3 linked regions of the Homo sapiens genome follow. The protein of the gene in region 2 interacts with the protein of the main gene of each other region in a biochemical or structural test. Each region holds a gene or a part of one and is shown on either strand. Other genes may lie near its edges.

What was found. Proteins that work in one complex are often made in the same cells at the same time.
Region 1: the proteins of NR1I3 (region 2) and POU1F1 form a complex in vitro, tested with the Homo sapiens proteins (one study listed by BioGRID).
Region 3: the proteins of NR1I3 (region 2) and CHD9 form a complex in vitro, tested with the Homo sapiens proteins (one study listed by BioGRID).

The regions. Positions count from the first base shown.
Region 1 is NC_000003.12:87,259,585-87,266,998, forward strand, and holds part of POU1F1 (pituitary-specific positive transcription factor 1), read right to left. Parts: intron 4,929-7,414; coding exon 4,704-4,928; intron 2,652-4,703; coding exon 2,487-2,651; intron 1,750-2,486; coding exon 1,689-1,749; intron 521-1,688; coding exon 310-520; 3' UTR 1-309. UniProt on the Homo sapiens protein: Transcription factor involved in the specification of the lactotrope, somatotrope, and thyrotrope phenotypes in the developing anterior pituitary. Specifically binds to the consensus sequence 5'-TAAAT-3'. Activates growth hormone and prolactin genes.
Region 2 is NC_000001.11:161,234,811-161,242,495, forward strand, and holds the start of NR1I3 (nuclear receptor subfamily 1 group I member 3), read right to left. Parts: upstream 3,394-7,685; 5' UTR 3,251-3,393; coding exon of another isoform or gene 3,231-3,250; intron 1,789-3,230; 5' UTR 1,756-1,788; coding exon 1,649-1,755; intron 1,168-1,648; coding exon 1,037-1,167; intron 1-1,036. UniProt on the Homo sapiens protein: Binds and transactivates the retinoic acid response elements that control expression of the retinoic acid receptor beta 2 and alcohol dehydrogenase 3 genes.
Region 3 is NC_000016.10:53,050,771-53,057,990, forward strand, and holds the start of CHD9 (chromodomain-helicase-DNA-binding protein 9), read left to right. Parts: upstream 1-4,220; 5' UTR 4,221-4,307; intron 4,308-7,220. UniProt on the Homo sapiens protein: Probable ATP-dependent chromatin-remodeling factor. Acts as a transcriptional coactivator for PPARA and possibly other nuclear receptors. Has DNA-dependent ATPase activity and binds to A/T-rich DNA.

The sequences.
Region 1 (7,414 bases), on a different chromosome or scaffold from region 2:
AAACCCATACTCATATGTCTGCGTGTGTGTGAGAAAGAGAGCGGGAGAGACAGAGAGATCATTTTATTACTGTTAATATATTTGGCTTAAAATAGATAATGTGGCTTCTGAGAATAATTATTTTAAGTAAATAACATCAATATAATTTAAATTGTTGGTTTCTTTTTTTTAAAAAAAAGTGGAAAAGTAAAGCTTCTGTAAAAGCTATTGATATAAAATGATTTTAAGTCAACCAAGTAATTTCTGTTTTTGTTGAGGAAGAGAAAGGAATGAAACGGGAGAAAAAGGCTATTATACAATAGAAAAATCTTATCTGCACTCAAGATGTTCCTTAGAAATAGAAAATAAACTCTGATTCAGACTTGTTTTCACCCGTTTTTCTCTCTGCCTCCGGTTGCAAAACCAAACTCTTACTACTTCTTTCTCCAGATTCAGTTCTTCAGCCATCCTCATGATCTCTTGAGAAGAAGGTTTATTCTGTTCTCCAAAGTGTCTCTCCAGAGCATCTTTAGCAGCAATGCTGGCGGGGGGTGGACATAGGGGGTGAAATTTTGTTGTTTTTAGTGAAGTTTTTGGCAGCTCAAAATTAAGGTAGGTTGAATTTCCTCAATATTAACATGAAAAGGAAACTTAAAAACTCTGAACACACTTGCAGGACACTTTAACAAGGACAAATGTATAATGTGTTAAATATGTAGATATTTTGTCTTATGTAAGGTAGAGTTACACGAGAGTCACGGAAAGCATTAAGTAGGGGACCCAGACTTTCTATGTTTTTCCCACTTTGTGCCACCAGAGGGCACTGAGTTCTTGAGAAGAAAATGAACATTTTCCTAGACATTTCTAAATATCTCCCCAAAATCATTTAGGGCTGTTTACGATAAAGGAAATCTCTAGTAAACAACTGACCAACCAAAACAAAACCTGTCTTTTAGTATTTGCTAAGCATGTCTCACAGAAACTACAAAAAGATCAATGAACAATCTTTCTGGGTTGAAATGCAAGAGGTCATGTTGAACTTGAAGAGACCGAAACACTGATTACTAGTGTCACATTTTTAAATACTATAGACACCATGGATACTACATTGTCAGAGCAATAAGTTATAGCTAAAAGGGGAGAAGATATGGCCAGTCTCTTAGAAATGATTGTTTTCTTTCTGTTTGTATTCAAAATTTTGGAGTAAAAGTGTTCTTGAATCAAACAATACATAATTTTCCATCAAATGTTGAAAATTATTAGCTCTCCATTTCTCAAAATTAAGTTATTACATTATTATTATTTTTTTTTTATTTATTTATTTATTTATTTATTTATTTATTTATTTATTTATTTATTTATTTTGAGACGGTGTCTCGCTCTGTCGCCCAAGCTGGAGTGCAGTGGCGCAAGCTCGGATCACTGCAACCTCCGCCTCCCAGGTTCAAGCCATTCTCCTGCCTCAGTCTCCTGAGTAGCTGGGATTATAGGCACCCACCACCATGCCCGGCTAAATTTTGTATTTTTAGTAGAAACAGAGTTTCACCATGTTGGCCAGACTGGTCTCGAGCTCCTGACCTCAGGCCCGCCTTGGCCTCCCAATTCACCTTACATTTATATGTTATGTTACACCTGCATTACACTCAAATGCTCATTCCATTTATAAAATACCAGTTTTGTCCTCTAGTAACTTTTAATATAAAGAATACCTTATAGTTGTTCTTCGTTTTCTTTTCCTTTCATTTGCTCCCACTTTTTCATTGTACAAAGCTATAATGTGGAAAAGAGAGATAATTACAAACACAAAGTAGACTTTTTATAAAAAACGATCTGATTTGGATTTCAAATTTTCTTCATAAAACAATGCAAAATAAAAATGCTAGACATTTTTGTCTTAAATTTTTGCAGTCTTTTTCTATTACAGACCTTAGAGAAAAATCTCAACGCAGAAATAAATATTAACCTTGCAAAGACACTTTCTACAAATAATATCCTCACTTTACTTTTGTTGGAATGCTTGCTGTAAATACTCTCAAACCTCACTCTTTATCAGGCTCTGACATTTGTATGAGTAGATAATTTTAGCTCATTAAGTTGCATATCTAGCAATTGCTTATATTATTTTCTTGGAAGACTGGTGTGTGCAAATGTTTTGTGTACACTAATATTAGGATACAAATGTGATTCATATATAATTTCTCTAGTATAAAAGAGAGGAAAAAAATGGATGTGTAAAAAAATAAGTATTTTACCCCTTCATGCTGATGCCAACAAGCTTTCCTTATATAGGTTATTCTATCCTCAATAAATTTATTTCCACACTTACATTGCCCTTCCTTTTTTGTTGTTTGTTTTAGTGTGATATAACAAAATGTTTATTTTTCATCTCAAAGAGAAAAGGCGGAAAAAAACCCCTCAAACCTCCTGCTTTAGCATTAATCCTACTTATTGAAGCCATTATTTTTAGGTTAAAACACAGCACAGCCTTCAGAGACACAATTTAGTACCTCCTACTTGCTCAGCTTCCTCCAGCCATTTGGATAATATTGCTTTCAGTTTGCATGCATTTTTAAAGCTGAGCTGCAGATTTTCAAATCGGCAGATTGTTGTTTGACTGAATTCAGAGCCATGCACAGCTGCCAGGGCCTCCCCAACATTTGTCTGGGTGTATCCTGTGAAGGGACAATAAAGACCATCAGCTCCAACTTTCCAGGAAATGTTAATTTTGGTTCATTGTCACACAAATCTGTGTATCTTTGTCAACTATTACACACTATTTTTTAACTATATATTCTTGGCAAATCAGAATTATTTAGTAAGATTCATTATACTTTGAAGTACTTGTGCAATACTTCAAAACATATTTCTTCTAGTTAATAAATTACTTTTATCTAGTCACTGAAAGAATTCAGATAGAAACATCTGCCATTCATAATATTTAACCAGTGTTTAGGTGTGTCCTAAACACTTCATAAGGCACTTGAAAATTATGGCTTTTTTATCATTATTGTTAGTTATCAAATAATATATGCTCAAAAAATTTTAATATATTAACTATAATGCATAAAATATACGGTTATATATCATAACATTCTTATTTCAACTCTAAAAGATTCAATGATATTGTTGAAGGGTACTAAATAAAACTAAGAATTATGTCACTTTCCCTAAAACCATATTTATTAAGAGGCTATGATTACACATTTCATGTATACTTCTGAGCCCATTTTATAGTTTTTGATAATGCCTCTGTCTTCAGACTAATGATCCTTATTGTTTGTCGCAAACATTTTTAGAGTACAGCTGAAATAACATATAATTTGAAACATTCACAGTAATATAGATAGAAAACTGAAAATGAATTTCACAAAGATTCCTACTACTGTGCTTATCACATGTAATAGCTACATATTATTTCAGGACCTAAGGCTATATACCTATATGTATAAAATGGTTGCATATGATGCCCATCAATAAATATTCTTATTACATTATCTATTGTTCATTCTGCAAGTGCAGAGGTTTGAACTATTATTTCAATCCATTAAAAAAATACACAATTTTATGCAATTTAACCAAAGTCAATTGTTATAGTTGTTTTATTTTAAAAACACTTCAGTAGAAAATGAGCAAAGGCTCTGAACAGATAGTTCACAGAAAAGGAAATATAAATGATTGTCAAGCATATTAAATAATATACTTTACACTCATAATAAAAGAAATTTTAAATGAAAAAACAGTGAGATGTCACTTTGACCTGTCTGATTTGCAAAGATCTAAAAGATTAACAGCATATTTTTTCTTTCAACCACCATTTATTTATTTTGTGTTATAGTTATACTCTTCTAGATGCTGGAGATATCATTAAGGAGAAAATAAAAAGAAATAGATTTTAAAAACTCATGCCGTTTTGGAGTTTATATAGCCTGAGGATGGTGAAAAAGATTCTCATGGTAGTAGTAAAATTTGGTACAACTTCTCTAGAGACCAGTTTGATAACATCTATCAAAATTACCAGTACACATACTTTTGATCAAGCAATTGTGCTTCTAACATTTTTGCTGCGCATATATTTATATGAGTGCAAAATAACATTTATAGGGTTAATCATCGTGGTATCGTTTTTATCAGCCAAAGATCAGAAACCACCTAAATTTCATCAGTAGAGGACTGGTCAAATAAATTGCAGTATATTCATAAAGTGGAACTTGACAGCCCCACAAAGGAAAAGGAGCTCTAGAAAAATTACTACTGAAAACTTCAAATAATACATATGTTTGGCACAATACATATATTTCCATATATATTTACTTATATATCCATGAGATATCATTGGAAAGATACACAAGGAACTAACAACGATATACAGAAAAAGCAAGCAGAAGGGATACATGTCACTTATACTCTTTTGTACTTTTGAATCATATAAATGTATGGCCTATTCAAAATTTCAAATAAAATATAGATAAAAATGGGCACTTCAAAACTAATGTTGAGGTAAGTTTTGAAAGAGTATTATTAATTTAAAAATTATGTATTTAGGCTCTTAAGAAATTATAAGGAAACAAATGTTTTTGGAGGATTTCCATAACGACTAACTACGTCCACAGTAGAGATGAAGAATGAGAATCATCTTGTACTTTTTAGCAATATATAAGAGATTTAACAGCAATAAAGATTTGCAAACCAAGTTCTTTTTCCTGTTGCCTTTAACAAGCACATACCTAATTTAATTCGTCTCACTTTAAATTCATTGGCAAACTTTTCAAGTTCTCTGATTTCTGGAGAATCCATGTCTATTGGCTCTTCCACCAATTTACTTTTCCGCCTGAGTTCCTGCTTGAAATCAGCAGCTGTGGGGTCCTCTGCCAGAAGAGGCTGGTGTATAGGAGGAAATCCATGACTCAAGGTGTGGTCAGGAAATTTATAAAGACAAGGGGTTAAACTACCTGTGAGTAAACAAAGAAATAAAATGAAAAAGACCATTTGTCATTCTCCTTATTTCTATATAAGAAAGGGTTTTGCCTGACTTAGCCCATTATTCTGCTCTAGCCTGTCTCAGTACTTACAAGGTTACCTTACATTCAGTCTTCCGAAGAAGGAGTCAAAGTAGCTTAGTAGAATTGAGATTATTTGTCTTCTACCTTCTCCAGAGCAGCAAAACCAAAGATAGGGTTAAAGGAAAGAAGCAGGGGACTGCAAATAACTAAAATAGAAACAAACAACTTCTCTCAGAAGCATACATTTTCTATCATGTTTTTCTCTTAAATGACACCTATTCCTGGGAATCTGAGGTTGAACTCTAACCAGAGTCTATGCATTGAACTCTGTTTTCTTAATTCATTGAATAAATAATGGGTGATGTTTGTTGTGATCATGGCACTAAATGCTTCGGCTAAGTGCTATGCTGAGAAGTTTTCTTGTGATTGGGAAATTGATTTCACAATATAAAAACGCCCCACTATTTAATCAGTAAAAACTTGATTTTATTAAGAAATAATCACATCTTTTTTAATTAAATGAAGGTAGGCAGAAAGAGAATGATGAGAATATAAAGTATATTAATATGGCTAAATAGGCTTGAGGAGTGATTAAATATTAACAAAAGGTAACCTTAAAAGTTCTATTAAAAAGTCACTAACAAGATTTCTTGAAAAATATACAATATAATAGAATAATTTCTTGATTATTATTTAAGGAAAAGCAAATATAAGAAGCAAGAAAGTTTGCAACTTTATATATGATAAGTGATTACCGATAAATGGTAAAGCATTGACTCTACTGAGTGGATATGTTAAATCACAAAAAATGTAAAAAGGTCTGAAATTATTACACAATTGCTTCCAGATTTCCTTTTTCATTGGAAGAGTCTATCTCAGTTGGGAAGTATAGGTGAGAGGACAGTATATAAGCCAAATTCCAACACATTTTGTTTCTTGTTTTCTTTATCAATACATTACAATTTTTATCGACAAAGATTCTACTTCAATTTATATTAAATGACATGTCTAGTGTGCCTTCCATATCCATGGGTTCTGCATTCATGGATTGATGCAACCATGAATTAAATACACTTAAAAAATAAAGTAAAAAATAACAACACAAGAATAAAAATGATACAAATAAAAAACCCAATACAGTATAACAATTATTTACATAGCATTTACATTGATTTAGATATTATAAGTAATCTGGAGATGATTTAAGGTAGAAGATGTGCCTAGGTTATATGCAAATACTACACCATTTTATACCAGGGACTTGAGCATCGAAAGATTTTGGTATCCTTGGGGGTCCTGGAACCAATGTGCCACATAGAAGGATGATTGTATAAGCAAGACATTTTTATATAAAAATATTGAGTAATTAATCATTTTCTTATAAATATAAATATTTTAAAATAAATTACTATGGAATACATGCAATAATTATTCTTAGAAACTTACTGGAAAAAAATGCATCAAGAGTTCATGCTACCTATAATTTCTCCACACATACATTCTCAAATCAAAGACATGAGTAATAATATATTTTCCAGAATACAGAAATCTTACATTAATATATCAATATATAATGAGCAAAGAATACCGTAACTCAGCAAATTGTTGGTTTATATTTTTTATATAAAAATATGTAATCATAAATATGTAGTTATTTATTTAATTTAATTTATTTATATAAAATTTATATTTTATATAAATTTAATTTAATGTATTAAATTTTATATAAATTTAATTTAATGTATTATTTATATAAAATATGTAATTATAAATATATAATTATAAATGTGTAATTATAAATATATAATTATAAATTTATATAAAAATATGTAATTATAAATATGTAATTATATCTAATAGGGTATATTATTTTTTCTAAAACAAAGTAAACATACAAATGAGAGATTAAACAAATTAGCATAACATAAATTTATCTGCTCTAAAGCTGGGAAAAGATGTGAAAGAAATTATTTTTGTCTTTAAAAAATTCCTGCTACTTTTACAAACCAAAATTATCCAGGTTTACTTTTGTAAAAGTCAGTTAACTATCCATTTTATGCTTTATTGTGTGGCATCTTGATCAGACAAGAGAACATTTTTAAAAGCAATTTTACCAACTTTTCTTTTATTATATAGCTTTTCTTGAAAATATTTATTGCCGTGGGGTTTATTTTTAGCTTTTTATTAATTTTAATTTTCTGCTAAATTAAAAGAAGGACTAATAGATGTAAAAGAAAATTGATGACATTTATGTTATCATTTATTTAATCTCATATTTATCTGAAGACTTGTTTTGTGCTTATGCTTTCAGAATTGATTCTCACATATATTTATAAAACCTTCACTTCTTTGATTATTTAGGTCCATCAGGTATCACTTAATACATTTAATGATAAAATACCCTGAGAAAGAGTACAAAGAAAAGCCAGGCTACT
Region 2 (7,685 bases):
TAATTAAGTTATTGAGCACCTACTAGGTGACAGGCACTATACTCAACAGATAGAAAATAAAAAACACACCTGTAATCTGAGCACTTTGGGAGGCGGAGGTGGGCAGATCGCCTGAGGCCAGGAGTTTGAGACCAGCGTGGTCAACATGGTGAAAGCTCATCTCTACTAAAAATACAAAAAATTAGCTGGGTGTGGTGGCACATGCCTGTAATCCCAGCTATGCAGGAGGCTGAGGCAGGAGAATCACTTGAACGCAGGAGGCGGAGGTTGCAGTGAGCCGAGATGGCGCCACTGCACTCCAGCCTGGGCAACAGAGTATGAGACTCTATCAAAAAAAATAGAAAGAAAAGAAAAGACAAGACTAGCCATGTGGCTATCTAGGAGAAAAGCATTTCAGGTAGAGGAAATGGCAAGTGGAAAAGCCTTGGGGAAGAGTGCGCTTGGTGTTTTTTTTTTTTTTTTTTTTTTTTTTGAGTCGGAATCTGGCTCTGTCACCCAGGCTGGAGTGCAGTGGCGCGATCTCGGCTCACTGCAAGCTCCGCCTCCCGGGTTCACGCCATTCTCCTGCCTCAGCCTCCCGAGTAGCTGGGACTACAGGCGCCCGCCACTACGGCCGGCTAATTTTTTTTGTATTTTTTTAGTAGAGACGGGGTTTCACTGTGTTAGCCAGAATGGTCTCGATCTCCTGACCTCGTGATCCGCCTGCCTCGGCCTCCCAAAGTGCTGGGATTACAGGCGTGAGCCACCGCGCCCGGCCTGGTGTTTCTAAGAATGACAGTGAAGTCAGTGTGGCTAGAATTGGTTGAGTAAAGGGGGAAGAGTATGAAATAAAGTCTGAAAGGTGTTGTGGGAGAGCTAGATCATGAGATCACGTACTTTGAGATGGGGAGCCATTGGATGTCTTGAGTGAATAGTGACATAATCCAACTAGTTTCAAAAAGAGTACTGTGCCTGCTATGTAGAGAATGCACTGTTGGGAACAAGGACAAAGACAGACGCAGTCAATGGATTCTTGAGATGTAGGGGGCCAACTCACTGTCTTTCCTCATGCCAGCATCTAAGCACTTCTGCAACCTGCAGGCTGGGCAGTGGCGCCTCTGAGTCTTGCTGACTTCACAGCTTCCAGCAAAGGGGCAGGTGGGACCAATGCTTTTGCTGACTGTTCTCCTGTGAGACACAGAGATGTTGTTAGAGTCTGGGATGCAATGGATAGGTGAGGGGCTGAGATGACATGGTCTAAAAGACCTGGGAATCTGGTGAAATGGACTAATCTGAGCTGTGCCCAAAGGTCCCCAGGGGTGGATAGTATCCAACACATCTCAAGCATTTCCATGGCAACACAGGATCACTCCAGAAAGCCTAGTTGATGTAGTACTAGCTAGGTGCTTCACAGGCAGTGGGTACATAATAAATGCTCTTGACTAATGGGCTGTGTCCATCAGACAAACATTCAGCTTTCCCTCTGTTATGCCACCAGTTTATACAGTGATGTGTTTGGCAAGATGTAGGATGCCAGCCACAGGGTAGTTAGACTCTAAGATAAAGGAGTAATGTAGCTGGACAGGCTTGGGCACCAGCGAGGGTGTAAAGGCTGACTAATAGGGAGTTTGGTTTGGAGGGCTATTTCCATTGGGGAGGAGACTCTCACCTGAAGAAACCCTTGCAGCCCTCACAAGTCAGCGCATTAAAGTGGTAGCCTGTGGCTTGGTCCCCACATACCACACAGTTCCTCAGCTCATCTTCCCTACTGGCCATGACGTCACGTGTTGGGGTGGCTGTCACAGACTCCTGAATGTAGGAGGGGTCAGCAGTCAGTTTTGGGCCACCCTTGACCCTTTTCTGTCCCTTCTAGAGAGTCTCTTTCCAAACCAAACCAAACATGCCCTTGACTTGATCCCTGGCGTTATCTTTTGTGGTTTTCTTTTTCTTTTTCTTTTTCTTTTTTTTCTGACACAAGTTCTTGCTCTGTCACCTAGGCTAGATCTCTGCTCATTGCAACCTCTGCCTCCTGGGCTCAAGCAATCCTCCACTTCAGCCTCCTGAGTAGCAGGGACTACAGGTCCAGACCACCATGTCCAGCTAATTTTTGTTTATTTATTTATTTATTTTTTTTGTAGAGATGGGGTTTTGCCATGTTGCCCAGGTTGGTTTTTTTGTTTATTTTTTTTTGTTTATTTGTTTGTTCTGTTTTTTGAGATAGAGTCTTACTCTGTTGCCTAGTGTTGCCTAGGCTGGAGTGCATCATAGTTCAATGTAACCTCACACTCCTGGGCTCAAGGGATCCTCCTGCCTCAACCTCCTGAGTAGCTGGAACTATAGGTACACACCACCACACCAGGATATTTTTTTCTTTTCCTTCCTTCCTTCCTCCCTCCCTCTCTTATTCCTTTCTTTCCTTTTTTTTTTTTTCCCTGAAATTGAGTCTTGCTCTGTCACCCAGGCTGGAGGGCAGTGGTGCAATCTTGGCTCGCTACAACCTCCGCCTCCCAGATTCAAGTGATTCTCATGCCTCCGCCTCCTGAGTAGCTGGGATTAAGGTGCCCGCCACCATGCCCAGCTAATTTTTTATTTTTAGTAGAGATGGGGTTTCACCATATTGGCCAGGCTGGTTTCAAATTCCTGACTTAGGCCTGGTGCAGTGTCTCATGCCTGTAATTCCAGCACTTTGGGAGGCCGAGGTGGGCGGATCACCAGGTCATGAGATCGAGACCATCCTGGCCATCATGGTGAAACCCCGTCTCTACTAAAAATACAAAAATTAGCTGGGCATCGTGGCATGTGCCTGTAGTCCCAGCTATTTGGGAGGCTGAGGCAGGAGAATCGCTTCAACCTGGGAGGCAGAGGTTGCAGCGAGCCGAGATTGCGCCACTGCACTCCAGCTTGGGCGACAGAGCGAGACTCCATCTCAAAAAAAACCCAAAAAAACAAAACAAAAAACAAAAAAACAAAAAAACAAATTCCTGACTTCAAGTGATCAATCCTCCCACCTTGGCTTCCCAAAGTGCTGGGATTACAGGCATGAGCTCCCGCGCCTGGCCTCTTTTCTTTCTTTTTTGTAGAGATGGGGTCTGTTATGTAACCCAGGTTGGTCTTGAACTCCTGGGCTCAAGCGATCCCCCCACCTTGGCCTCCCAAAGTGCTGGAATGACACACGTGAGCCACTATGCCTAGCCCCCAGCATTATCTGTATTTTATTACATTTAGTCTTTGGTCCCCAACAGATTTCCTACCTGCTTCTCTTAGGCAGCATGTCACCTGCAGGCCACAGAATCTGGTATGGAATGCCTCTCCCCAAACTCCCACGCTGTTGCTGGTTTTCCTCTGATCTCAGGAGTTGCCAGTGATTGGAGTTAGGGATTATGACCCGTAGTATCTGGAAAACAAGAGATGTCTGTTTTATGTGGCCTCCAGTTGCTCTCAGTGACTGTGGGGTTAGGGCACAGACCCTGGACTCAGGGCAAAGGCCTGGGTGGGAGGTTTTCCCAGCATGACAAAAGTGCTGGTTGGTGGCACACGGGGAGGGACTCCAGTGGGTGGGAACCTTGTGACTCATTGGAAGCTGCTGCTTATTAGACTCATCGAGATTTTCCCTGTTGATGAGTTTAAGGCTACATCTGCAGCCTTCTGTGTACAGAGATCCTGAACAAGCTGGGAAGAGAGAGAGAGAGAGAGAGACAGGCAGACAGACAGAGCAAGCTTTTTCACACGCAGTATGTCAGTACTAAAAGAAGAGGTGTGACAGTTCCACAAGGCTCCCCCAAAAAAAGTTTTTAAGAGACTAGGGGCTGGGCACGGTGGCTCACACCTGTAATCCCAGAACTTTGGGAGGCTGAGGCAGGCAGGTTACTTGAGGTCAGTAGTTCGAGACCAGCTTGGATAACATGGTGAAACCCTGTCTTTACTAAAAATACAAAAATTAGCTGGGCATGATGGCACATACTTGTAATCCCAGCTAATTGGGAGGCTGAGGTGGGAGGACTGCTTGAACTCGGGAGGCGGAGGTTGCAGTGAACTGAGATCATGCCACTGAACTCCAGCCTGGGCACAGAACAAGTGAGACTCCGTCTAAAAAAAAAAAAAAAAGAGAGAGAGAGAGAGACTACGATCTAAGTAAGAGCTTACGGAAAGAGCCCTCTCACTTCCTAACTAGGGAGGGCTGAGAATCAAATCAGAGTGACCACAGGGCACAGTGACATGCCCTGTACATCCCCCTACTCTGGAGACAGGGAGAGAATGGTTTGAGCCCAGGAGTTTGAATCCAACCTGGGCAACATAGCAAGACCCTATCTCTAATAATAATAATAATAAAGTGCTATTTTTAAAAAATATTTTTTTTTTGGCTGGGCGGGGTGGCTCATGCCTGTAATCCCAGCACTTTGGGAGGCCGAGTTGGGCAGATCATGAGATCAAGAGATCTGGCCAACGTGGTGAAACCCTGTCTTTACTAAAAATACAAAAATTAGCCAGGCATGGTGGCGCACGCTAGTATTCCTAGCTACGTGGAAGGCTGAGGCAGGAGAATTACTTGAACCCGGGAGGCAGAGGTTGCAGTGAGCCGAGATCGCAGCACTGCACTCCAGCCTGGGTGACAGAGCGACCACACCCAGCTAATTTTTGTACTTTTAGTAGAGCTGGGGTTTATGTTGACCAGGCTGGTCTCGGACTCCTGACCTCGTGATCCGCCCGCCTCGGCCTCCCAAAGTGCTGGGATTACAGGCGTGCACCTGTAATAATAGCTACTGTGCCCGGCCTATTTTTCTTTGTTTTGCTATTATGTCTTCTGCTTCTTCATTTGCATTAAATTATAATTAATGTTTCTCTAAAGATGAGTTAAAACCCCAAGTGCAGGCTGGAGTCATACACACACACACACACACACACACACACACAGAGAGAGAGACTGAGTTAAAAAGATCCTTGTTTAGGTTACCAGAATGAGTTGGTAGAACCCCTAATCTCAAGTGGTATAGCATCTAACTATGCATAACTTTGTATTTTGAAATAAACTGAGTTCCAGAGAGCACAGATGCTTGGATCTGTTCCTTGGGAGATGGTAAGAATATTTATGTGTATGTATCTGTTGGTGTCTTTGTGACTCTGACAATTCATACTAATTTATTCAATCAACAAATATTGACCAAGAATCCACCTATGTCTTAGATACTAGAGTTAAAAGATGAGTAAGATGCTCTCCTACCCTCATGAATTTTAATCGCTAATGGGGGAGACAGACCTTTACACAGATATAAAGAAATATGGTCAGATCAGTGATGGTGCCATGCACAGAGCATTATGGCACTGAAATAGCGGGGCACCTAATTCTGCTTTGGAAAAGGGGTGTCGAGGAAGAGGCAGGAGAGGCTTTCTGGAGGTGTGGCAACTGAGTTGACTTTTACAGGGTAATGATGAGTTAGCTAGGGGGAATATAAAAGGCAGTTCAGGCAGAGGGTGCAACCTGAGATGGTCAAGAAGCCAGATACAAAAAGGTAGATATGGTAGAACCACAGACGGGCCTCTCTTACTGGAGTATAACATTTCAGGCTGGGAGTGGGAAGAGATAAGGCTGGAGAGGTGGGATATAAGGCTGAGATGTAGGCAGATCACAGGAGACCTCATGTGTCAGGCTAAACACTTTGAGTCCATCAGGAAACTTTGAAAGAGAAAGCTGTGAAATGACATTGTCATGTCTATATTCTAGATCATTTACTCTGCTGGCTGTTGGATTTGAGGGGGTAGGACTGAAGGCAAAGAGACCAGTTAGTAAGCTATTGCCTGCCGGGTGTGGTGGCTCATGCCTGTGATCCCAGCACTTTGGGAGGCCGAGATGGGCAGATCATGAGGTCAGGAGATTGAGACCATCCTGGCTAGCGCGGCGAAACCCCGTCTCTACTAGAAATGCAAAGAATTGGCTGGGCACGGTGGCGGGTGCCTCCCAGCTACTTGGGAGGCTGAGGCCGGAGAATGGCGTGAACCTGGGAGGCAGAGGTTGCAGTGAGCCGAGATTGCACCACTGCATTCCAGCCTGGGCAACAGAGGAAGACTCCGTCCCCCCTACCAAAAAAAAAAAAAAAAAAAAAGAAGAAGAAGAAGAAAGCTATTGCCATAATGTAGGTGAGAGAAGATTAAGCTGGAGCTAAGATAGTGGAAGGATGTAGGGGAGGAGAGGGTTTTGAGAAATACATGGAAAGTGGAATTATTGGAATTTGGTGACTACTAGAGTGCCTGGATTAAGAAAGAGGACGAGGAATTAAAGATGACTCCAGGTTTCTGGCATGGGTGACTGAGTGGATGGTAGTATCGCCAATTGGGAGACAGACTACAGGAGAAGGACAAGGGCCCTCCATACTTGGGTGCCAATCCATTTTCACAGTTGACAATTTACTCCAGCAATAAGTTATCAAGTGTCCACTCATGATTAGGCACCAGAAGGAGAGACAAAAGAGAGTCCCTATTACAGAGACACTTCCAGATTAATTATGAAGACTGAATACATAAATTGAATTCCTAGGTCTTAAAAGAAAATATATAATCAAACCTTAAATGTTTGATTTAAGGTTGTGGTAAAGACTATGTATAATATTATAGGTATTAATTGCTCCCTTAATTTATTCTTCTTGTGTACCCAGTATGAGCAGAGTACTATGTAAAAATCCTTGCCTGTGTTAACACTGTAAGATAGGTAATATCATCATTTTACAGATGAGAAAACTGAGGCTCAGAGTGTTTAGATAGCTTATACAAGGGCCAATATACCCAACAGTTTATTAGATGACTCCACTTGGATGTCACATAGACACCTCAAATTCAATATGTCTCAAATTGAATTGTCAATCCCCCACAAACTAACTTTTCCTATGTTACCTAACTTGGTGACTAGTCCAATGTGAGAAAGTGGAAAGAACATGGGCTTTGGGGTCATATAGACTTAGGTTCAAATTCTGACTGGCTCTTGCTAGTTGAATTACTTATTTTTTGCCACTTCTCTAATTGTTTGACGTGACTGAGACCCAGCTCCATGGGGCCCTGGGAATCAGATATCATCAGGCTGAGCCAATACCGGACCAGGGAAGGGAGGCATACTTCCTCTTCCTACATCAGCTTTGAATGCTTAGGGAGAGGCTAGGCTAGAAAGATGTTCTGGTCCAGGGATGCCCTTCACCTGGGGCCAGGGATTACACCGAGCCTTGTTCTTCTTGGAGAAGTCCACCTTGAAGTTCTTTGAGATGGGGTTGCCTTGGGAACAGACTGCTTTGAGTTTGCTCTTCTGTGTACACAAACCCTCCCCTGGCTTCAGGGTCACTGCTGTAATGCAGATGGAGAGTGGAATCTGCTGCAGGATGCCCCTGGCATCCATGGTGAACAGGCTTTCAGGGTTAACTGACACCCTCACCCTCTTCCAACATGCCTTTTCCAGGCCAGGGTCTGAAAAACACCTGTGAGGATTGTGACCTGATGGGTTAAGCTCTCTGAATTTCAGTTTTCTCACCTGGAAAAAAAAAGGGTTAAAACACTCATTATCCAGGTTTGCTGTGAAGATTAAACAAAGTAATAAAGTAGTAAAATGTAAAATTCCTTACACGGTGCTTGAAATATGGAAGGAAATCAACACATATTCATTCTCTTACCTTCTTCGTTTCCTTCCCCTTTTACTGCTGTCTTCTCCCAGATACAAAACCAGAAACTGG
Region 3 (7,220 bases), on a different chromosome or scaffold from region 2:
TTTGGCATTTCTCCCTCTTTCCTTCTCTACGCCTTCTGCTGGGGACCTGACACCATCTTGCCCATGACTCCAGTGCCACCATTTCTAGCTCCATCCACTTTAGACCACAGAGGATCCTCACCCTCTTTTTTTTTTGAGACGGAGTCTCGCTCTGTCTCCCAGGCTGGAGTGCAGTCGTGCGATCTTGGCTTACTGCAAGCTCCGCCTCTCGGGTTCACGCCATTCTCCTGCCTCAGCCTCCTGAGTAGCTGGGACTACAGGCGCCCACCACCATGCCCAGCTAATTTTTTGTATTTTTAGTAGAGACAGGGTTTCACCGTGTTAGCCAGGATGGTCTTGATCTCCTGACCTCGTGATCCGCCTGCCTCGGCCTCCCAAAGTACTGGGATTATAGGTGTGAGCCACTGCCTCTGGCCTGATCCTCACCCTCTTTAATGGAGACTCACTCTAGAAGATAAATATTCCCTTTCTTACTAAAAATTAGGTCACATCTCATAACATAATTTTATGAATTTATTTTAAAAAACAAAAGTAAACAAAATTTTCCCTTTGAAGAAAAGGGTGAACAGAACAAGAAAGCAAAAGGGATAAAAATGAGTAAATGTCCAACAATGATAGTCTGGATTAAGAAAATGTGGCACATATACATCATGGAGTACTATGCAGCCATAAAAAATGATGAGTTCATGTCCTTTGTAGGGACATGGATGAAGCTGGAAACCATCATTCTCAGCAAATGATCGCAAGGACAAAAAACCAAACACCGCATGTTCTCACTCATAGGTGGGAATTGAACAATGAGAACACTTGGACACAGGAAGGGGAACATCGCACACCGGGGCCTGTTGTGGGGTAGGGGGAGGGGGGAGGGATAGCATTAGGAGATATATCTAATGTAAATGACAAGTTAATGGGTGCAGCACACCAACATGGCACATGTATACATATGTAACAAACCTGCACATTGTGCACCTGTACCCTACAACTTAAAAGTATAAATATATATATATATATATATATATATATATATATATATATATAATGAGTACCTTGCCTATCCTGTTCCATATATAAAGCACAGCGTCCAGCACATAGTAGGTGCTTAGTAAACAGTAGTGAGGTGTTCAGGGCATGTGCCTTGGAATAAGATAATCCAGATTCACGTTCTGGGTACATTACTTGCTAACTCCTCTACCTAGGGCAAGTTACTTAAACATCGCAAGTCTCAGTTTCTTCGCTGAGAAAGTGGGGAGAGTAACAGTGCCTACTTTGTAGGATTACTGTGAAGATTAAACTAAATTGTCAATCTAAAATCCTTAGTGCATGAGCCAGGTATGGCAGCTTGTGTCTATAATCCCAGCTACTTAGGAGGTTGGGGTGGGAGAAATGCTTGATGCTAGGAGTTCTAGACCAGCCTGAGCAACATAAAAAAAAAAAAAAACAATAAACCCCATCTCTTAAAAAAAAAAGAAATTAAAATTTAAAAATTAGCCAGGCATGGTGGCACATGCCTGCAGTCCCAGCTACTTGGGAGTCTGAGGTGGGAAGATCCCTTGAGCTCGAATTTGTGGCTGCAATGAACAATGATCACCTGGATGACAGAACAAGACCCCATCTCTTAAAGAAAACTGTTAGTGTCTAACACGTTATAAATATTTTATTATTGTTATTTACATACTTCAGCCTACCAAAACTCCTGTTTTCCATGGAGAAAACAGATCTGTTGATAACTCTGCAGTTTCCAGAAACACTGTGATTAGCAGAATGAGAAAAATGCCAGGAGAACTCAGAAGAGAAAGTCACTAGGAAGACTTAATCTCATCAGGTGATGCCAGAATCCAGAGGTTGTAATCTAGGACTTTGCCCAGGCATGCTTTGGGGCACAGTGGTGGGGAGGGAGCTGTTGCAAAGATGGGGCAAGAATGGTCTGGACATGACTCAGACACTTTAAAGTGAAAGAATGGGAAATTGTCTGGCAGCTGGTACTTACCATGGGCAGTCAGCACTCCTCTGACTGATTCACCTTCACCAGGGCACCAGCCTGCAGTGAAGTAGCTGGGGCTGGTTCCTTTTAGTGACACCCACCACCCCTTGCCCTTCCAGGTATTGTCCACAGATGACACCTCCTCCTCCTCCTCCTGCTCCTCCTCCTGCTCTGCCTCCTCCTCCTCCCCCTGCTCCTGCTTCTCCTCCTCTTCCTCCTGCTCCTTCTCCTCCTCCTCCTGCTCCTCCTCCTGCTCTTCCTCCTCCTCCTGCTCTTCCTCCTCCTCCTCCTGCTTCTCCTCCTCTTCTTCCTCCTGCTCTTTCTCCTCCTCTTCCTGCTCCTCCTCTCCTTCTGCTCCTCCTGCTTCTCCTCCTCCTGCTCCTCCTCCTCCACCTGCTCCTCCTCCTTCTCCTCCTCCTGCTCCTCCTCCTTCTGCTCCTTCTTCTCCTGCTCCTCTTCCTCCTGCTCCTGCTTCTCCTCCTTTCTCCTGCTCCTCCTCCTCCTGCTCCTCCTCCTGCTCCTCATCCTCCTTCTCCTCCTGCTCCTCCTTGTCCTCCTCTGCCCTTGATATTCACTTTGACCAGATTACACCAGTACAGAGAGTCCAAAGGTTAAATAGGCACACACTCACACACAAACTCACACTGGGCTAGAACAATGACAGAGCGTCCTGGGGGAGCAGAGTGGGGGCCGGGGGGAGGGGGAAAGGAGGATTGCAGGCCTAACTTTCACAAATCACCTGAAATTTCCACTGAAGGCATTATCTCCAAATGTTGCCACAGAGATAAACTGCCAGGATTACAAGAAAACGTGAAGACGTTCCCATAGAACTCTGTAATGCTTATATCCATCACCAGGAATGTCTGCCCTTGGCGCCCTAAACATAGATTGATTGATTGATTGATTGATTGATTTTGAGGCAGAGTCTCACTCTGTCACCCAGGCTGGAGTGCAGTGGTGCGATCTCAGCTCACTGCAACCTCCTCCTTCCGGGTTCAAGGGATTCTCCCACCTCAGCCTTGGAGTAGTTGGGATTACAGGCTCCTGCCACCACGCCCGGCTAATTTTTGTATTTTTTGTAGAGACTGGGTTTTGCCATGTTGGCTAGGCTGGTCTCAAACTCCTGACCTCAAGCGATCCTCTTGCCTCAGCCTTCCAAAGTGCTGGGATTACAGGCGTGAGCTACGGTGCCTGGCCCTAAATATAGATATTTTTAATAAATCCTCTACTTATCTCACAACGAGCTCAATCGCTTTGCATTAGATCGTTGGGTGTGTTAAAAGTATTCATGTGTTACATTAAATGTGAATTCAACAAAAGCAGAGATTTTTGTGTTTTGTTCTTCATTGTATCCCTTGATTGTAGAAAAGTGGCACATAGTAGGTGCTCAGTTAATCGTTGTTAAATGAAGACATAAATGAAATATAAACCATTAAATGTCCACCATATTTGTAAGCGTTTTGGCATGTCTTCATTGAAAGAATACCAGGCAGCTGGGAGCCATAGTTTACTCCGGTAATCCCAGTGCTTTGGGAGGCTGCAGGTGAGAGGATCGCTTGAGACCAGGAGTTCAAGAGCCACCAGGGCAACATAGAGAGACCTTGTCTCTACAAAAACAAAACAAAACAAAACAAAAAACAAAAAACACAATTCCCTTAAGCCGCCCCTTCCCCTTCCACTGCTCAGAGAAGGCCTTCCAGCAGAGCAGAGCACGAGGTCGCTGGCACACACCCATCCTCCACCAGTCCTGGCCTCTGTAGAGCAAGCCAGCAGAGCAGGCTGTTTCTCTCATTCAGGGACGGTTTAGGGGGTGGCAGGAAAAAATGGTTGCTGATAGGCGAAGGGCCTCCCTGGGTTGGAGAGAACCCCAGCCTCGGATGGTCCCAGCACATTTAAAAGAGAAGCAGTGCCAAAGGTGGGGTGCACTGAAAGCTGCTGGATGAAGGGAAAGATCCTTGTGCTCAGCCCGGAAAACCGGAGGATGGATACCAGGCCGAGGGGTCCCTCCGTGCCCCAAGAGAAAGTTCACCAAGTTTAGATCCCAGTGCCCCGCAGCGGGTGAAGGTGGTCCCGCCCCAGGCCGGATCTGGCCACAGGGCTGGCGGCGCGCTGGAAAACCGCCCACGTGGGAAGAAGCCCTGGCTGCATTTCCGCCCTGGACTGCGCTCCCGCCTGCCAGCGCGGTCCCTGCGCAGCCGCCCCGCGCCCACTAGGTGGCGCCTGCGCTCTAGTGGGCGCTTCACAGGCGCAGCGACAGCGACAGCGACAGCTCGAACCTGAGTCCCAGGATTCCGGGGACTGGAGGGCAGCGCCGGCAGCCAAGGTAGGATTCCTGAGCCCCGGGCGTCTCCCTGGAGCCTCTGAGGTCGGGGTGGACAGCGGGGCGGCCGCTGGGCACCGCTTGCGGTCTGCAGAGATAACCGGAGGAGTCGGGGCGGCAGCACGTGTTGTAGCCGTGGGGGGGACCCAGAGACCCGCAGCCTCGGAGCTGGGCCTAGAGCAAGGCAGAGCACCAGGTCGCTGGCACGCTCGCATCCTCCCCAGCCCTCGCCTCCCAGAGCATGCCCGAATCCCCAAGCCGGGCGTCCTCGAAGCGGAAAGCAGCCACTGTCGCCCAGAGCCACTCCAGGGTGGCAGCCGAGTGCTGATAAGGTCCAGAGCACCACTTCTTAAACTTGTCTGCCCGTTGGCGTTGCTTGGGAAGCATTAAAAAAATACCGATGCCCTAGTTCCACCCCCGCCCCCCCCCAGAGACTCAGATGTGATTGGTCTGGGTGGGGGACTGGACATCTGGGTATTAAAATGTTTGCAAGAGATTCCAGCTGGCAGCCAAATTTGAGGACCCTTGATCTAAGGAGTTGGAGAAAAACGGAGGACATTTGTTTGTTCTAACCCAGAATGCTGATGATTCCCTCCTCCTCCTATTCCTCCAGTTCGCCCTCCTCCTCCTTTCTCATGTGCCTTTTAAGCAGGAAATGCCTCTGCCTTTGTACTGTCAAACCCAAGATAACAAACTAACCATCCCCCACCCCCCACAGTAGGGCTGGTTCTGAAAGGGTTGAACTCGAAAGTGGACAAGGAACAGAAAGACACCAGTGTGGAATGTGAGCGAAGACTCTTAGGGGTTTATGGGTAGGAAGGGGGTTCCTCCCCACCCTGATCCCAGAGAAGATCAGGAGACTGGCTGGAGCTGTCTTCCTCATTTTGGCAAACCTAGCTGATTAGGCAGTGAGAGGCCTTATAACGAGCCTTTTTTACAACTAGTAAAAGGGCCCTTTTACAACTAGTAAAAATGAGCCCTTATGTTTGTTTGTTTTATAGAGATAGGGCCTCACTATATTCCCCAGGATGGTCTCAAACTCCTAGGCTCAAGCCATTCTCCAGCCTCGGCCTCCCAAAGTGCTGGGATTATAGGCATGAGCCGCTGCGCCCCGCTGACCCCTTATGTTTATATAACAGCAGTGTTACTAACATGGGCATAGATTCCCCCCCATAGGCAGCCCTTCCTTTGTGACCTTGGAAACTCACTGAACCATCCTCAGCTTCAGTTTTTGTATCTGCAAAATGGGTGTGAAAATCGGGTTGCCTTGGGAATTATTCACAATAAAAGCTACTGTTTACTAAGGGTTCACCCTATGCTAGAGGCTTTCTGTGCAGGGCCAAGTTAGACTCCTGACCATAACTTCCACGGTAGAACTATGAATACTGCATTTGATAGCCAAGGAAACTGAGGCTCAGAGAGGCCAATGATCTTGCTCGAAGTTATATAATTAATTAATAAGAAGCATGTCCCATATTTGAACCCAGGCAGTCTGCTCTTGAGCTCAGGTGCAAAAGAACAATACTCTGCTGTTTCCCTTGTTGACCAGGACAGCGTGCACGGGGCAGGCGCGTGGTGTGTCTTCACAAACACTAGCTATCACTGCTGTGAGCTGAGCACTTCCACTGAATTGACTCATTCGCTCATTGGAAATACATTTATTATTGAGAGCCTACTGTGGGCCAGGCAGTTTTCCAGATGCTAGAGATAAAATATGAGTAAGACAGAATTCAGCCAGCCCCGAATGAGAGAAACAGGAAGAAAGTGCAGTAGATTCTCATTATTCACAAGTTCTAAATTTGCAAATTCTTCCCTGTAATCCCAGCACTTTGAGAGGCTGAGGCAGGAGGATCGCTTGAGGCTAGGAGTTTCAGATCAGCCTGTGCAACAGAGCAAGGCCCTGTTTGCTTAAAAATTATACACATTGAATAATTCTTAAAAAAAATTTGTTTGTGGCCAGGCATGGTGGCTCATGCATATAATCCCAGTACTTTGGGAAGCTGAGGCAGAAAGATTACTTGAGGCTAGGAGTTCCAGATCAGCCTGGGTAACACAGTAAGACCCTATATCTTTATTTTAAAAATTATATAATTAAAGAATTTTTAAAAAAATATGTTTGTGGCCGGGTGTGGTGGCTCACACCTGTAATCCCAGCACTTTGGGAGACTGAGGTGTGAGGTTAGGAGTTTGAATTTAGGAGTTTGACACCAGCCTAATCACTTGAGCTAAGGAGTTTGAGACCAGCCTGGACAGCATAGAGAGACCTTGGCTCATTTAAAAAAAAAAAGAGGAAAAAAGGCCGGGTGCAGTGGCTCATGCCTGTAATCCCAGCACTTTGGGAGGCCGAGGTGGGTGGATACCTGAGGTCAAGAGTTCGAGACCAGCCTGGCCAACATGGCAAAACCCCGTCTCTACTAAAAATTCAAAAAATTAGCTGGGCGTGGTGGCAAGAGCCCGTAATCCCAGCTGCTTGGGAGGCTGAGGCAGGAGAATTGCTTGAACCTGGGAGGTGGAAGTTGCAGTGAGCCAAGATCACGCCATTGTACTCCAGCCTGGGCAACAACAGCGAAACTCCATCTCAAAAAAAAAAAAGAAAGAAAAAAGAAAAATAATGTCTGCGTAACTTCCAAATCAATATCCATGACACTTTCACAGTCATATATGGATGCACGTAGAATAGTGAAAAAGTTGAGTCACCCAACGTGCACATTTCCAGCCAAGGGCAAACAGGAGGACACGCTGCTTTCTGGTTTCAGCTCTTGTGCTATAAACAAGTGTCCCTTTTGTGGTGTACTTAGTGCCACATTTTTTGCATGTTTGTGTGTTTTTGTTTGTGATGTCGCTGTTTGAAATGGCCCCAAGTGTACAGTTGACGTGCTGTCTAGTGTTCCTAAGTATGAGAAGGCTGCGATGTGC